Regions from separate parts of the Homo sapiens genome. Here region 1 is reported to be linked to region 2. The links are microRNA targets in miRTarBase. Many come from high-throughput screens and were not tested one by one. Region 2 holds a microRNA gene; the other region holds the end of a gene's coding sequence.

What was found. The annotated mature microRNA hsa-miR-3664-3p reads UCUCAGGAGUAAAGACAGAGUU and lies in region 2 at 1,104-1,125, shown strand. An mRNA with a match to its seed (bases 2 to 7 or 8) in the 3' UTR can be bound and repressed. Matches are read on the target gene's strand: a 7mer-m8 pairs with bases 2 to 8, a 7mer-A1 pairs with bases 2 to 7 and ends in A, and an 8mer does both.
Region 1: miRTarBase lists ZNF770 as a target of hsa-miR-3664-3p. Seed matches in the 3' UTR shown: 7mer-m8 at 1,279-1,285.

Annotation. Positions count from the first base shown.
Region 1 is chr15:34,978,538-34,981,951 of GRCh38, reverse strand. It overlaps ZNF770 (zinc finger protein 770), which reads left to right. Exons shown (of 3, transcript NM_014106.4): 3 at 1-3,414. The coding sequence ends at 593. Among named protein-coding and RNA genes, the nearest start is that of ZNF770, 8.0 kb to the left of the region's middle.
Region 2 is chr11:70,870,000-70,873,413 of GRCh38, reverse strand. It overlaps MIR3664 (microRNA 3664), which reads left to right and starts at 1,046; the gene lies at 1,046-1,144. All of the region lies in intron 11 of SHANK2 (SH3 and multiple ankyrin repeat domains 2), which reads left to right.

The DNA.
Region 1 (3,414 bases), not on the chromosome of region 2:
TAATTCATACTGGACAGAGGCCCTTTGGCTGTAATATTTGTGGGAAATCTTTTAGACAGTCAGCTCACTTAAAAAGACATGAACAGACTCATAATGAAAAGAGTCCTTATGCATCTCTTTGCCAAGTAGAATTTGGAAACTTCAACAATCTTTCTAATCATTCAGGTAATAATGTTAACTATAATGCTTCCCAACAATGTCAGGCTCCTGGTGTTCAAAAATACGAGGTCTCAGAGTCAGATCAAATGTCAGGAGTTAAGGCAGAGTCACAGGATTTTATTCCTGGTAGCACCGGGCAACCCTGTCTTCCTAATGTACTTTTGGAATCAGAGCAAAGCAATCCTTTTTGCAGTTATTCAGAGCATCAGGAGAAAAATGATGTCTTCCTGTACCGATGCAGTGTTTGTGCTAAAAGTTTCCGATCTCCATCTAAACTGGAAAGACACTACCTAATTCATGCAGGGCAGAAACCATTTGAATGCTCAGTTTGTGGCAAAACATTCAGACAGGCTCCTCACTGGAAGAGACATCAGCTTACTCACTTTAAAGAACGACCACAAGGGAAAGTGGTTGCCTTAGATTCGGTTATGTAAATTGTCGCAACCACTAACAATTGTGGTCTCTGGTGATCTTATTTTTAAAGCCTGTATTATTTAAAATGCATTTTTATTGAAAGGCCTGCATTAAACTGAATGGTTTCACAGGCATTTGCTTGTCCTGCATAGTAAGGAGGTAGAATACATAGAAAATTAATACAATGTTTTAGAAACAGCCAAGTTAATTTTAGAGGCAAGAACATGATTTGATGCTATAAAGTAGGCATTTTAATATTGTAAACATATACTTTGGCTGTATTGAAAAATATAAATCCATGATGGCTGTACAAATAATTTAGCCTCATTCATTTTTTAAAGGAATTATTCCTTAAGACATGCCATCTCTTTTTAGATATACTCAAAAGACTGAGAGGCAAAACTTGGCTTTTAGCTGCAGCACATAGCCCTGTTATATTTGATTTATTTTACATTTCATATGAAAGCATAATTTTGTCCACATGTGACTCAAATTGCATTGGTAATTTTTTTTTTTTTTTTGTAAGTTAAAAAAACTACAGAGACACTAAAGGTGAAAATGGATGAGACAATTATAGTATTATTTTCATTGGTCTTTTTTTTTGAGATGGAGTCTCACTCTTTCGCCAGGCTAGAGTGCAGTGGCGCCATCTAGGCTCACTGCAACCTCCGCATCCCAGATTCCAGCGATTCTCCTGCCTCAGCCTCCTGAGTAGCTGGGATTACAGGTGCCTGCCATCACGCCTGGCTAATTTTTGTATTTTTAGTAGAGACGGGGGTTCACCAAGTTGGCCAGGATGGTCTCGATCTCTTGACCTTGTGACTCACCCGCATCGGCCTCCCAAAGTGCTGGGATTACAGGCATGAGCCACCGCACCCGACGGTCTTTTCAAAGCTATTTATTTTTAGGACTATGTGGTAATTTCACCTTCAGGTGATAAGGATTTTTTTTTTCTCCCAGCTAGTGCTATCTTTCTCAAAATAATTTAAAAGTAGGCGAGAGGCTAGGATGTACCTATATTTACCATGTTTACTTACCAGGAATATTTTCTAAGTGCCATAGTCTTTTTCATAATACGTATGAGTTTTACCTTTTCAGAGGAATAATTTCAAGTCATTTATTTGCTCATTAATGATAGCAGTAGTCATAGACTTAAGACTATTCTAGAGATCTTCATCTCCATAAGACTTTTACATTTATTTTAGTAAACTTTTCTTTCTATGCCTCTTTAATGGAGTGGTTCTGTTATTTAAGCCTGTTCTAAGTTTGATCAAATGGCAATGACTAGGTCTAGTTTTAGTTTTTATTTTTGCAGGAGTCTATTGCTAAAGAATTTTATTTTGATGCTTGTTAAATTTTTATTTTAATTAATAAGGTAGTCATTCCTGTAGAGGGATAAGATGCTTGTAGAGTTGTGGGTATCATTCCAAATAGAACTGTTATGATTTGGGAAATATTCTTTACTACAAAGGACTTATTTCATAATTACAAATTTTCCTTCATATTTGCCTTTGTTTATAAAATCTTCAGGAATGACATTCTCTAGCAATAAAAGGAATGAACCGTTATGTTTCTAAGCTGAAAAGAGGAACAGGTGGGTAATTATCCTGCCATACTTAAATATAGTGGAAAATCCTCTATTGAGAATGTGGATAAATGAACAATTGTAAGTTTTGCATCATAAACTGAGAACTTTCTTTTGACAGGGGGGAGGCGGGAGGGATAGTAGGTGGGGGTGATCTGCTTGCTTCTTTTACCACAGGTGATTTTTAAGTAACTTGGGTTTAATTTACAGAGATGAAACATGACAGTCTGAGTAAAATACCCAGTGATGTAGAAGTGTGCCTGTTTATTATGTAGATACAGACATCCAGCAAAAACAGGAGAATCACATGCTTTAAAGAACACTTTCTCTTAGGTTTCCTTGAGATATGTTCCTCCAGTGCAAGCAAGATAATGGTTTACAGAATTTGCTTTACACAAAACTTGTCAAGAACTCATCTGTTAAAAGCAAGGAATAACTAGTTTATATTTTCCAATAATGTTCAAGGTTTTCTCCTTAATATGTTTGAAATTATTGATTTTGGCATTTTTCTAAGCAATTTATGTAATTTTATTTGAAGAAAATGTTTTGTATAATGTTTTTCCCAGCCTAAACAGGGAGAGTCCTAACAGTGTTGTGCTTGTATGATTCTGAGACTTTATTTGCGTAAGTGATACTACTATACTTTATTTTTGACCCATGCCTTTTTAAGCTGTTTCATATTGAAAGGTGGAATATTGTAAAAATTTTGTCAAAGATGTACTGTAGTGCTATTTGAAGTACCTGTAACAAAACAGTTGGCCCTCTGTATCCATGTACTCTGCATCTGTGGATTAAACCAATTGCAGATCAAAAATATTAGAAAAAATAAAAATAATACAAATAAAAATACAGTATAACAGTTATTTAAATAGCATTTACATTGCATTAGGTATTAGTCTAGGGATAAAGTATACAGGCGGATGTGCGTTGGTTATATACAAATATGTCATTTTATGTAAGGGACTTGAGTATACTTGGATTTTTGGTATCTGTGGGTTGGGGGGACGGTCCAGGAACCAATACCCCATGGATACCAAGGGACAACTGTACTTATTTACCTTTATTGTCATTGCAAGCTTCTTATGGAAACTTTATAGGAATGAAAATATACATGTTAAGAAGATTAAACATTAGATAGTAGATGGTTTGTTGCATGCTAGAACTGTTAGTATTGTTGAATCAATTACTTTGGTTTCATGAAAAAATAAACGATAAATATCTTTAAAGAGAACTAGAAGAATTTTTTGTTTGAGTGA
Region 2 (3,414 bases):
TTTCCCATTTCCTGTTTGCCTATTGAAAGTGTCTGGGGCCGTTGGGCCCTCCTGTCTCATGAATGGGTGTGATTCCTGGAAGCCCTGCAAGTCTCGACCTTGTCAGCTCTCACCTGCCCTCCTCTTCCTCATGGGTTTTGTCAGAGGATGTTAATGCCTTCCAAGCAAATTGTATCAAATGCATTTGAAAGGCAAAACTCATTGTTTAGTGTCTGAGAATAGCCTCTGAGTGCTGGGATGCCACGGTTGCTGTGGCAACGGCTCTTTGTTTTAGGGAACCACAAACATATCATTCTATAAACTGCAGGGCCCAAGCTGCAGGTTTCACCTTCCTGAGGGTCGCCACCCGGGAGGCAGAGGCACCAGGATGGACGTGGGAACTACCTCCGCTCTTCCTTTCTCACAGGTGCCCAGGATGTCTTTAGCTTTTGTAATGTTTGGGGCTGGGGGAGGTGGAGGTCATGAGTGTGGGGAGAGGGCAGACAGTGGATATGTGCTCCTCCTGCCCCGAGGAGCTGGGCTCTACAGGGCATCGTGGGGTCCCTTCCTCTTAGCAATCAATGCCATGTTCCACTGTGGCCCCAGACTCCAGCACCAAGCAAAGCAGCCCCCACGACCCTTAGGACAATGAGGGGTGAAAATTGCCACCCATCAGTTTTCAAGTGGTCAGTGTGGAGGAAAACAGGGACCCGCAGGTGGCCAGAACGTGGAGGAGATACACCAGGGAGCCGGAAGTAATGTGGTCCAGGGACCCATCTCTCATTCCACGTAGCTCACGGACCTGTGTGCCCCTGACTCTGGTCTGTGGGGGGCCCCTCTGTATGGGGGCCCCCTATTCCCTCCATCTGAGGGTCTCTCTTCCCTCCATCCAGCCACTTGGTCGTTTGCACCCACTGTGTCCACCAAGCGCTTCTAGGGAAGGGTCTTGTCCTTTTTTCTCCCCGTCCCGCCGAGCCTCCACCTCCAAGCCTGCATCCTACTTGTCTTTCCTCTTCATGCGTGTGGGGTTTTTTTCCCCTCCTTTCCACTGTGCACCCCGTCTCCTCTGTAAACTTGAAGGTAGGGAACTCTGTCTTCACTCATGAGTACCTTCCAACACGAGCTCTCAGGAGTAAAGACAGAGTTCCCTACCTTCAATGTGGATCTGCAAAAAGATCTGAAAAGCGAATGCCTTCTCCGTAGCTCGTTGGCAGTAGTACTTGACCTGAACTGATTTGAGGCTATTTATAGTTTTTATTTATCCTACTTAGCATGATTATTCATCCGTGCCCTGAAGGACTCCTCCCGCAATTGGCAATGGGACACTGCCCAGACCCACTGGCGGTGTGACGTAACAGGCCACACACGCATCATCCTACTGCTGCAGAAGCAGGCAGCGTGCACATGCCAAGGCACCTCTGGCTCTGGTGTTCAGGGATGTCGTCGTGGGGCTGTATTTGTTGAATGAACAAGAGTTCTTAATCCAAGAATAATGCTGGGTTTACCTTTCAAGTAGTTCAAAGGCTTCTTTCAAGACGGTGTTGTTATGGAGGATGGGATGCGTCTTGCCTTAAATATTAATAGAAATCGTATATGGAAATCTCAGACGGCTTCAAAGAGTCTCTCAGTCAAATTCAGATGGGGACTGTGCCTCTTTCCTGGCTGTCCCCTCCCAGCCCCCATGTGGCCACAGTTTGCTGTAAAACCCTGCAGGGCCCCTGAGTACCAGGTGTGTCTGGCCCGTGTTGCCTTTCAACATGAACTCTTTCTTGACTTTCTTCTCCATCAGGGATATGGTCATATTTATAATATTTGTCTCGACCTCACTTTCCTTTCTCTCCCTGCCCTGCTTGTTCAGCAAATGTGTTGGGGAATCCGCAGGGTCCCAGGCACAGCCTCTCCCTCCAGGGGCTCACAGGCTCCATGGCACACAGATGTGGCCTCAGCACGTGAAGGAGGCTCAGTGCCAGGCTATGTGGCTCATCTCAGAAGGTGGTGTGGCCCCAGGTTCTGTGGTTGCCCTTGCTCTGCTCTCTGCTCCCCACCCCCGCCCATCCTGCCCTGCTCCTATGGTGCCAGTGATCTTCGGGGCTGGTGGCTTGCAGAGCGCTCCCTGGACCTCCTCTTGGACCCTCAGACTCATCTCCTGCAGAGCCTGCCACCAGGCGAGCCCAGACCCCTGACTCCCCTTTGAAGTGTGTCCCTGCAAATGCATATGTTGAAGTATCACCCTGAGGATCTCAGAGTGTGACCTTGTTTAGAGGTAGGGTCTTTACAGAAGTCATCAGCTGAAAATGAGGTCATTAGATTGGGCCCTAATCCAGTAGGACTGATATTCTTATAAAAAGAGGAAATGGGACCGGGTGCAGTGGCTCATGCTTATAATCCCAGCACTTTGGGAGGCTGAGGCGGATGGATCACCTGAAGTCAGGAGTTCGAGACCAGCCTGGCCAACATGGTGAAACCCCGTCTCTACTAAAAATACAAAGATTAGCCGGGCGTGGTGGCGGGTGCCTGTAGTCCCAGCTACTTGGGTGGCTGAGGCAGGAGAATCACTTGAATCTGTGTGGGCGGAGGCTGCAGTGAGCCGAGATCGTGCCACTGCACTCCAGCCTGGGCGACACAGCAAGACTCCATCTCAAATAAATAAATGAATGAATGAATGAATGAAATGTGGCCACAGCCATGCACTCGGAGCAAACCTCACACAAAGATGAAGGCAGAGCTCTGGGTGATGCTTCTGTCAGTCAAGGAATGCCAAAGATTGCCTACAGGCCACTGGGAGCTGGAGAGACAGGCCTGGAACAGAGTCTCCCTGCAGTCCCCAGTGTGAACCCCCCCACTGCCAACACCTTGACCTCAGACTTCCAACCTCCAGAACCATGAGACAATTCATCCCTGTGGTTTCAGTCACCCAGGCTGTGGTTACAGGAGCTCCAGTGAACATACCCCATCTTTCCTGGCCAGCTGGCCCTTCCTCCTGGGCACCCCATCTCAGTTATGGCCCAGGAACTGAAAACCCAAAAACCTTCCTAGATCTTTCCTGGCGCTCACCTGCCCTTTTCCCATCTGTCCAGAACCAGCCCCTTCCACTTTTTCTATTTCCTGAATCTGCCCCTCCCTCCCCACTGGTTGGGCTCTCATTTTGGCCCAGATGGACTGCAGGAGGGGACGGCTCTGGGTCTCACCCCGGGTTCATTTCTCTCAGTCCCCTGGAACGAAGTGGAGCACACTCTGCCTGGGTGAGCCTCCAGCACTCAGATTCTGCTGCTGTGCTCATCCTCAAACCTCTTCCATAGTGCCCTGGGCCACACTCTCTTTATAAGGACACTAATTATTGGATTTAGGACCCTCCCTAATCCAGTATTACCTCGTCGCAACCTCACTGATCACATCTGCAAGGAGGCAATGACCCATTTCCAGTTAAGGCCCCAT